Regions from separate parts of the Homo sapiens genome. Here region 2 is linked to region 1. The links come from fine-mapping of genetic effects on gene expression. A gene starts in region 1. The other region holds a variant in brackets. All regions are shown on one strand. Distances are between the middles of the regions.

What was found.
Region 2: its variant is fine-mapped to the expression of GPR173 in spleen (GTEx, PIP 0.97).

Annotation. Positions count from the first base shown.
Region 1 is chrX:53,046,223-53,051,598 of GRCh38, reverse strand. It overlaps GPR173 (G protein-coupled receptor 173), which reads right to left and starts at 2,810. Exons shown (of 2, transcript NM_018969.6): 1 at 2,115-2,810.
Region 2 is chrX:53,074,078-53,079,453 of GRCh38, reverse strand. It overlaps GPR173 (G protein-coupled receptor 173), which reads right to left. Exons shown (of 2, transcript NM_018969.6): 2 at 1-2,929. The coding sequence starts at 2,832. The coding sequence ends at 1,711. Among named protein-coding and RNA genes, the nearest start is that of TSPYL2, 5.6 kb to the left of the region's middle. RefSeq lists an enhancer at 1,805-1,864. The variant C/T (reference allele first, on the strand shown) is at 2,746.

The sequences.
Region 1 (5,376 bases):
CATGCCCACCCCACAGTACACACACAAGCCTACCCAGATACCCACACACTCACACACATGCCATCACACGGCCTGCTTACACACACAGGTTCATACACAGCCACACTGCCCATGAACAGACATGCACACACAGACTACACACTCAGCCACACATTTTCAGTAGCATATATACAACCACGCTCGGGCCCAGAGGCCTCCAGACCACAGACCAGGTCCTCTCCCACACCAAATGCTTCTTCAGAAAAGTCTACTTTATGCCTCAAAGCCCCCCTCCCTGCCCCCACAGAGATGGTCTTCTGGGCCTCAGTCTTTCCCCATTCCTCCTCTTCCCTTGGCCACCGACCCCACACTCTGTGTCCCATCACATCTCCATGCCCTGAAATCAGCCAGCAGACCCCGTTCTTCCCCCACCCCAGGCTCTAGGTGAGCAGCTCCCTGGGACGCGTCCCTCACAGGTCTGGCTGCTGCATGGGCCACACCCCAGCTCTACCCGAAGCCCCGTGATCTCAGGAGCTTCAGCCTCATCTCCAGGCCCTGCCAACCACTGACCACAGGCCAAACTCTTGCCAAGTCTCCCCTCAACAGGGAGACACATACATCACCAGGGCCAGAAAGGCTGCAGGCTGCAAGCCAGGCCTCTGCTGGCTCATGGGGGCTCAAGGTTCTGTGTGTGTGTGTGCGCACAAACAGGGACAAGTGCAGGGAAAGAAGACTGGAGTGGGGTGGGGGAGGGAGGCTCTGCCCATAACCACTTATCATTCTCTACAAATGAGAAGTATTAACACAGGGCTTCTCCTGCCTCCCTTCCACTACCCTCCATTTGCCCACTTGCTGCCCTCCCCAGATCTCTGCTGAGACCCTGGAGAAGAAGGACCTGTCCCTCCTCCAAGTAATCGATAACACTATTAATCATGAATAATCAGCAACAATATTGACTGTGAGCTTTGCTGACATTGCTTCAGTGCCACCTCGATGCACATCTCTTACTTACATGCACCAACTCATTCAATCCCTACACACACCCATCAGGGAAGGGTTACCAGTCTCTTTGACAGATGGGAAAACTGAGGTTCGGTAAGTGGCATGCTTCCACTAAAGTTGCAGAGCTAGTAGTTGGGGGAAGTGTCCCTGGGAGGATCCATGTTCTCCATGTACCAGGCTTTCCTGCCCTTCCAGATATATGGACCTCCGGCTACTGGGCACAAGGCCACAAGATCCGGGGGGTCTCAGACACAACATGGACATCTGAAACAGAGACAGAGAGCCTTGTGGTGGAGGCTGGGTCCCACACTGTAGGGACAACCATGTTGTTCCTGGCCCCTGCAGGTTGTCATGGGATTGGTCTTTGCCCCCACAGAACCATCAGGCAGCCTAGGGCCTGGAAGTGCTCCCCACCACCACTTCACTGTCCTTTAGCCCTACAGTGACTTCCTCCCCCTAGCTGGGAATCGGCAACATCTTCAGTGGTGAGTGAGCAAAACTCTGCTACCTGTAGGGAGAGATGGGGAGGTGGGGAGGGTGGAAGGAAGGAAGGAAGGAAAGGAGGAAAGAAGGAGTGGGGGATGGTCTGGGCTGGGAGCAGCTTCTCTGTCATGTCTACCCACCTGCTTGCTACCCAGGTGCACACACACACACACACACACACACACACACACACACACACCCGGCCAGCAGGCCAGGGATCCTGGAGGAGAGTGGAGGAGGAGGGAGAGGGAGAGGAGCAGCCGCAAGAGGCTGAGCCTGCCCAGGGTGCAGGCATTGTGAAGGGAACACGGCCGCCGGGCTCCCAGGCATCCCTTCCACAGCCAGCACACAAGGAAAGATTAACACAGCCTCATGCCCAAACGCAACCATGATGATAAAAACAGACCCTGTGAGGGGAAACAGGTGGTGGTTCCCTTTCTCATGGGACATTTGGGATTGGGGAAGATGGGGGGAAGATGAGGAGTCCCCAGGCTTGGGTACCAAGGAGCCCCTTGATGGAGCAGAAAGAGACTAACAGAGTCAGACAGAGACAGAGAGCATGGCAGTGATGGAGACTCTGAAGTATGTGTGGGGAGACAGAACAGAAGTCCCAGCCCCCCATCCTTGGTGGAGGGATGCTGACTGCTTACCTTGGCTCTCTCAGCAGGGATGTCTTGGAATCCACGATGGGGCTCAAGCTGTCTCACCCAGGTAAATCACAGCCCGGGCCACATTGTGGGACCCTCAGTGATCTGGCGGCCAGTGACACTCCTGCTTCTGTTGCCGTGGATACAGCCGGGCTGGTCTAAATCGCAGGCATCAGGGAAAGCAGGCACCGGAGGGGTGCACTGGGTAGGGCTGGGGGTGTTGGGGAACACCAGGTGGGCAGCACACAGCCTTGGGGTGTCCAACTAGCTGGCAGGTGGGGGTCCCGGCAGGTGCTTCCTCCACTATACACTCCCACTCCCATCTTCATGCCACTGCCAAGCTGGGAGGGGGGCCAGTGCTGGCCCCTGCTACCCGTCTGCCTGCCTGGCTGCCGGTCCCCCTACCCCCCCCACCCCCCACCCCCCCCCTCCGTCTGCCTGCTGGCCGCCGCCTTTTGTCCTCAGAAGACACGGTCCCCGCGGGGCCTCTGCCAAGCCTCCAGCAGATGCTCAGGGTCCGGGGCTCCTCCCTGGGAGCACACGGGCCATGGCCTGGGAGAGCCCCAGGTTGGGGGGGCTCTCATCCAGGCTCACCCCGCTCCCCGGGCCTGGCGGGGATGGGGAAGAGGTGCAGGTCCACAGCCAGAGGCAGCAGCAGAGGTGGTGTTGGGGAGGGGATGGACGCCAGAAAGAGGGGGTGGGGTGGAGAGAGAGGCTGGCCTGATAGCCGTGTCCCGGGTTTTAGATCCGGGTTGAGGAGGGTGGCTCAGAGCATCCGAGGGGGGTCCTCATGCAAAACGAGGGCACCAAGGGCCTGCCAGAGGGACCCTCCTGGCCTGGGAACCACCCCGGTGCACACAAATCCAGGTCCCACGATGCTGGGGACACCCAGCCTGGATAGAGCATCAGTGGGGAGTCCGGGGCCCTAAGCTGGACCCCATCAGGCCTGTCCGTCCCCCCTCTCCTCGATTTGCACGGTCCCTGCCTCAGGGGCGGGCGGAGGAGGAGGGAGGCAGGGAGGGAGAGGGAGGGAAGGAGGAAGGCTGAGCAGGCAGGGAGACTCCCAGCTGCCAGCCTGGTCCTCCCTGGGGCGGGGCGGGGAGCGGGGGGGGGGGCGGGGGGTGCTGGCGAGGCCAGGGAGCAGCCGGCTGGCTGACTGGGTGGGGACGCTGGCGTGGCGGCTGTGCTGCCAGGACAATAGCTGGCTGGGGAAGTCAGGCTCGGGCCTTTCTGAGATGCTCGAGAGAGGCATGAGTGGAGGTGGGGAGAGATGGCCAAGAGGCTGCTGAGAGAGCAACTCACATGGGCTACAAGTGCAGAGGAGGCAGGGCATAGAGGACGCTAGGATCTGGGTCGGGACAAAGGTCCGGCGAAAGTTTCTCAAAAGCTTTGGGCTGGGAGGCATGCTTAGGGCCCGGAGAGGTGGGATTCATAAACTGATTTAGAATGGGGTTCTATGGGCATTTTCCCTGCAAGGCCTGGAGGTTGGCTGGGGGGTTGGGGTGGGAAAGGAGCGCTGCCCAACTCTGAACAGCCCCTCTCAGGATATCTCCTGTGCCATCCCCACTTTCTCGGGGCCAGCAGACAGGCAGAACCCATACTTAAAGCCATGTCCCAGGACAACAGAATAGGAGAGGTGAGGAGAACGCTTGGTAGGCAGAGATATGAAGACAAGGAAAAAAATATTTGTTTCAAATATGATTAAATTGGGACCAAATGATGCTTCAGTGGTTCCCCTAAGTTACAGCATTCAAGAATTCAAATTATCTTGATATAAGAAATTGTGTTTTATTTCCTTTCTTCCTTCATCCATTGGTTCCTTCATTTATGACAAATGGTTTTATGTTAGGCCCAGTGCTGGGCACTAACAGTACCGGGTGACTCAGACCTATGCTCTCTGCCCTTAGGAAATGCAGGCTCTGCTACCAGACTGTGGACCTGGAACCCACTTGCATCTGAATCCCCTGGAGAACTTGTAAAGTGTAGATACCCAAGCCTACCTCCCAGAAATACTAATCTAGGAGGTTTTCAGATGGGGCTTCAAAACCTGCCTTTTGACAAGGCCCTCCGGTGGTCATTTTTATGCCCACATGCTTTGGGGAGGGAGAAAAATCCATGGAAAATTAGAAAATGTTTTGGAGGCCGGGTGTAGTGGATCATACCTGTAATCCCAGCACTTTCGGAGGCCAAGGCAGGAGGATTGCTTGAGTTCAGGAGTTTGAGACCACCCGGGACAACATATTGAGACCCCGTCTTTATAAAAAATTTAAACCTTATCTGGACATGGTGGTGTGCGCCTGTAGTCCCAGTTACTTGGGAGGCTGAGGTGGGAGGATCACTTGAGCCCAGGATGCTGCAGTGAGCTGTGTTCTCACCACTGCACTCCAGCCTGGGCAACAGAGCAAGACTCTGTCTCGAAAAACAAACAAAAAAAGGCAAAACGGGCTGGGCACGGGCTCACGCCTGTAATGCCAGAACTTTGTGAGGCCAAGGCAGGCAGATTGCTTGAGCTCAGGAGTTTGAGAAAAGCCTGGCCAACATGACAAAACCCTGTCTCTACTAAAAATACAAAAATTGGCAGAACGTGGTGGTGCGCACCTGTGGTCCCAGCTACTCCAGAGACTGAGGTAGGAGGATTGCTTAAGCCCAGGAGGTCGAGGCTGCAGTGAGCCGAGATCGTACCACTCCACTCCAGCCTGGGCGACAGAGCAAGACTCTGTCTCAAAAAAAAAAAAATGGCAAAACAATAAGTCTTCTAAAATATGATGTAAGAGAATATCTTTATAACTTTGGGGTAAGGAAGGAATTAAACAAGACAAGAAGTAATTACCATAAAGGAAAGGAGTGATACATTGAACAGCATTAAAATTTAAAACTTCTGGTTATCAAAAGATACCATTAAAATAGTGAAAAGATAAGTCATAGAATTAGATAAAATATTTGCAAAGTATATATCCAGTAAAAGGCTCATATCCAGAATATACAAATAACTTTTACCAACCAATAAGAAAAAGACAGATAACCCAAAAGAATAACAGACAAGATACTTGAACAGGGACCTTGCAAAAGAGGATAGCCAACTGGCCAAAAACTTAGGAAAATGTGCTAAACCTCATTGGTAGTCAAGAAAATACAAAATGAAACCATGCTCACTAGATTGACTAAAAAGAAAAAGACAATACCGAATATTGGTGAGAATGTGGAGTGATAAGAGCTCTCATACAGTATTGATGAGAGTATAAATTGATATAGCCACTTTGGAAAC
Region 2 (5,376 bases), 28 kb before region 1:
CCCTTGGTCTTCCCACCCCACCCCCTCGGAAAGGCACCCCCATCACTATCGCTGAGAGAACAGGCTCCCCTACTCCCAGCCTCTCAGCCACTCTGGCCTGCCTTTCCAGGGCCACTCTGCAGCCAGGCTCATTAATGTCTCTCCTGCCTAGAGTGCCCTCCCCATTCTGTATGGGTCAGGCTTCCCCAGTTCTGGGGCTCTCTTGGGCTAGGGAGGGAGTTTAGGACAGGGACTTCTATAAAGAAGGGAAAGGGGGATGGATAAATACAGATTCCGGCCCCACAGGAAGTGAGAGGGGGACAGAGAGCCTGGGTAAGACCAGGGCAAGGAGTGCCAGCTTGGCTCACCAATCCACAGAACAGGCCTCAAAGTAAGCCCAGAGTGGACTCCACCCCTGGGAGGAGGCTTGGATCTCCCTCCTGGAGAATCTGACTGCAGTGTGCTCCACTTTGGGTGTAGGTAAGGGTGGGGGAAGGATGGGGAAGGAGGGTTGTTGGGAAAGAAGGATGCTTGGGGCTCAGGGCCCAGTCAGCCAAGGGCTACTAAGGAGGGGCTTGAGGCCCCTGAGGCTTGAGGGGGACAAAAAGAGGTCAGATAGGAATGGACTCAAGTCCACAGTGCCTTGGAGTTTGTACCGCTATCGGTTACCAAGGCCCCAAACAAATTTTCATCTTCAGAAGAGTAGGGTGAACCCGAGAGACAATTCTGGGGTTGAAATCAGCTCTGACCCAAGTCTCTGTGGTCCAGCTACTCTGGGGAGTTCAGCTCCCTCCTTACACTTTCCTGGTGGGCTGCTCCTGCCTGTATGGCACCCACATCAGTCCTAGTGGGGCTGGAGTGGATTTCCATCCTCAGGAAGAAGAGTTGGGGGCTGGGGATCCTGAAGGCAGCGTGAGAGAATGTGACCAAGTGTGGGTCTCTTCAGTTCGAGGAGTTCAGCTCACATCTTACTCTTCACCTAACCTGGGCCCATCCTTGGGGCCCTTCTCCCTACTCCCTTGACTTCTCCAACAGATGCACAAGAACCATTTGGGAGGTCTGGACATGGTGGGGAGGGAGAAGAGACTGGGCTTGGGGCAAGGGTTGGCCTAAAACAACATTGCACATGACATAGTAATTAAACATCCCTGCTCCCTGGGAACCCAGCACCCCCTTTGGTCCCTCTTGTCAGCAGCCTTGGACCACTTTCTCCCTAAACATCCAGGCCTTGCTAAAGGACTTGGAAGGGGAGGGTGCATGGGAGCAGAGGGGGCAAAAGAGCTCTGGAAGTCTATTTTACAGGACAAATTCCCCCTTCTGGACAGTGTCAGAAGGAGAGACATTAAAGTAAGAAAGCCTGTCTCCTCAGCTGTTAGTAGAAAAACCTGCATTCTCAGTGTTCTTTTCTTTTTCTGAATTGTCACTTCTGAGAGAGAGAGAGAGAGAGAGAGAGAGACAGAGAGAGAGAGAGAGAGAATGAGATTGTAGAAGTGGAGAAGGAGGCAGCGGAGACAGGCCCCACAAAACTAAATATGCCTCTTTCCCAGTCCCTCGCCCAGTCCTCCATCCTTGGGAGGTGTTGGCAAAGGTGCCTAGATTACAGGTGGTTCGAGGGGCTGGGGCTGGAGCTCAGAAAGGAGGACTCCTGTATGGGCCCCTACCCCTCCCTTGCTGTTGGCCCCATCACGGTGGCCATGACCTTCTCTCTGCCTGTCTGCCTACCAGCCTGCTTCACATGACACAGTAGGGTTCTCTGGGAGCCGGGGCACCTCCTGTGCCCCAGCAGGGGGCGTGAGTCCTCAGGCACTTCTTGAGGTCCTTGTTGAGCAGGAAGCAGACAATTGGGTTGACGGCAGCCTGGGCGAAGCTCATCCAAACAGCAGTGGCCAGGTAGCGGTGGGGCACAGCACAGGCTTTCACAAACACTCGCCAGTAGCAGGCCACGATGTAGGGTGACCAGAGGAGCAGAAAGAGCAGTGTGATCGCGTAGAACATGCGGCCCAGCTGCTTTTCACCCTTGACCTCGTCCATGCCCAGTAGCCGCCGGCTGGCTGCATGCCCATTCTGCCGGATACCCAGCAGGGTTGGTGGCATGGGCCCACGGCCAAAGCCGGCGATCCAGTTGGCAGCAGCCTGGCCGGTGGCCCCGGGACCATGGAATGTCCAGTTCTGGCTGATGGCTGGCACCATCTGCACTGGCTTCATCTTGCGGTGACGATACTCGAAGAGGAGCAGCTTGCCGTAGACAGCATGGGTAGCTGCCATGAGCACAGCCAACATAAGCATGAAGCCCAGCGTGTCATTGGCCTTGAAGTAGCGATGCTCAAAGATGCACTGGTCCTCCTCCCGAATAAACTTGTAGGTGCCCACGTCAAAGACAGGTGGGAAGGCCATGGCCACAGACAGGGTCCAGGCCATGCAGATGACAGCCGCGCATGTCCAGAGTGTCATGCGCTTGGCGTAGAAGCGGTGGTGGGCGATGGCCATGTAGCGGGTGACGCTGATGCAGAACAGCATGAAGGCCGCATGGAAGCAAAAGAGCACGGCCATAAAGGCCACAATCTTGCAGCTGAGTGCACTGAAGGTCCATGAAGAGCCGTGGCGCACAGAAGCCAGCACAAAGGGGAAGCAGACGGCAGAGCGTATGCCATCGGCCAGGCACAGGTCCAGCAGGAAGTAGTAAGGAGCCTTGTGCAGGGCACGCTCCTTGAGCACCAGCAGGGACAAGATGGCGTTACCCGCCAGGCTCACGCACATAATCAGTCC[C/T]AGCAGTACCAGCTTCACATAAGCTGATGCGGACGGTGGGGACAGAGCGCCGCTCACCTCCTCAGGCTCTCCGGTAGTGTTGGCCATACTGAGGGTCAGGGGCTACTGCCAACCCTAGGGGGTCAGCCAGTCCGGTACTCGATGGGCCCGGGGGGGCTCCATGAGTTGTCCTGCTACATTGCACCTGCAAATGGGAATGAGCGGGGGAGACACAGACACAGAGAGACAGAGAGATGAGGGCAAGAGAGAGACAGAGAGATGAGGGCAAGAGAGAGACAGGCAGAAAAACACAACAGGCGTGCAGAGACAAAGTGGGAAAGAGAGAGAGAGAGAGATAGAACAAAGAGATAGAAAAGTGGCCACCGATATAAATGGATTGAGATTGACACAGAAATGGAGGGGATGAGAAAGAGCGAGGAGAGAGAAAGAGGGGAGAGAGAGAGAGACAGACAGGAGACCATGAGAAACAGATGGAAAGGAAAGATGAGGAAGAAACAGAAAGGGTAGGGTTAGTGTGTCTACGAGCCCTCCCCAATTATGCCCTGGCTGGTGCCAGGCCCTGCCCCTGGGCCACTCCTGCTCCTACCCGCTCCTTGTCAGGTGAGGATGCTGCATTTCTTTGGATGTCTTTGGTTACCTGTTTCCTCCACTGGTGGATCTGTGGGGCAGGGATGTTGGTGCAGCTCTTCTCCCCTTTTGCAAAGCTCTAAGGTTGTGTTCAGACTTTTTTTTACTGCCACCCACAGTAAAAAAATACATTTTACATCACAACCCGCTACACATACATGCACGCACACACACAGCTCAACCAAAAGTTTCACAAAACAGTACTGAACCTGTATGCAATGTACCCCATTCATTTTTATTCTCTTTCATGTGTTCTTAAAATGCTGGTACCACTCACTTAATAGATTTCTTTATTCATGATGAGGAATGTGTTTAGTGTGCTTGAGGAACAGCAGGAAGACGAGTGAGGCAGGAACGGTGAGAGCAAGGGAGACAGTGGTGGAAGGTGAAGTCGCAGAGATGCCTTGGGGCCAGATTGTGTAGGGTTGTGGGCCACGATGAGGACTTTGGTTTTTATTTTAGGTGAGGAGGCAAGTATGTGTGAATATAAACATGTAGGGATGCTTGTGCATATTCATTCATACACTGAAAAAATATTTATCAAGCATCTGTGTGCCAGGCACTGTTCTAGGTATTGGGGATACAGCTGTGAACTACACAGATAAAGATCCCGGCCCTTGTGGAACCGACATTCTAGATAACAAAGAAGAGACACGGGTGAAGTATAGTATGTCAGATGATGACAAGTTCCTAAGAATAAACATAAAGGAGGGAAGGAAGATAGGAAGTGCTAGGGGTGGGGAAGATGCTGCAGTTTTAGATGAGGTGGACAGGGGAGGCTTCACGGAGGAAGTGTCATCTGAGCACAGACCTAAGGGAGGTGAGAGAGTGAGTCATGCGGATATCTCGGGGAAGAGAAGTCCAGGCAGGGGGAACGGCCAGAGCAAAGGCCCTGAGGTGGGACTCTACATGGCATATTTGAGGAAGAGCAAGGAAGCCACTGTGGGTGGAACACAGTGAGTCAGGGGAATGTGGTGGCAGGTGAGGTCAGAAAGGTGGTGAGGTCAGATCAGGGAGGCCGTGGCGAGAACTTTTTCCTCTGAATGAGATGGGAGTCACGGGAGGATTCTGAGCAGAGGCCAGATGTGGTATGATCTAGGATGGAACAGAATCCCGCTTGCCGTTGTGAAGAGCAGGGGTCATGTGGGGTGTATTAAAAGTAGGGAGACTACTCAGAGGCCCCTGCAGCAATCCAGGTGACAGATAATGCCCCCTCCATGCCACTCTCCCTATTTTGCCTCCTAGAATTTCTCTCTTCTAACACACTATATATTTATATATATATAATTTTATAATATAAAAATTTATATATAAATTATATATATTTATATATAATTATATTTATATATAAATACAAATAAATAAATATAAATATATATTTATATATTTATTTATAATATTTATAAATAAATATATATAAATCTATATTTATAGTTATTTATAAATAAATATATATAAATCTATATTTATAGTTATTTATAAATAAATATATATAAATCTATATTTATAGTTATTTATAAATAAATATATATAAATCTATATTTATAGTTATTTATAAATAAATATATATAAATCTATATTTATAGTTATTTATAAATAAATATATATAAATCTATATTTATAGTTATTTATAAATAAATATATATAAATCTATATAGTTATTTATATATAAATATAAATATATATTTATATATATTTATATATTTATTTATAAATAAATATAAATATATATAAATATATATAAATATACATTTATATATAAATATATATGAATGTATATTTATATATATTTATATGTAAATGTATATTTATATATGAATAAATATAAATGTATATTTATATATATTTCTATATGAATAAATATAAATGTATATTTATATATATTTCTATATGAATAAATATACATGTATATTTATATATATTTCTATATGAATAAATATACATGTATATTTATATATATTTATATAAATGTATATTTATATATTTATATATAAATAAATATAC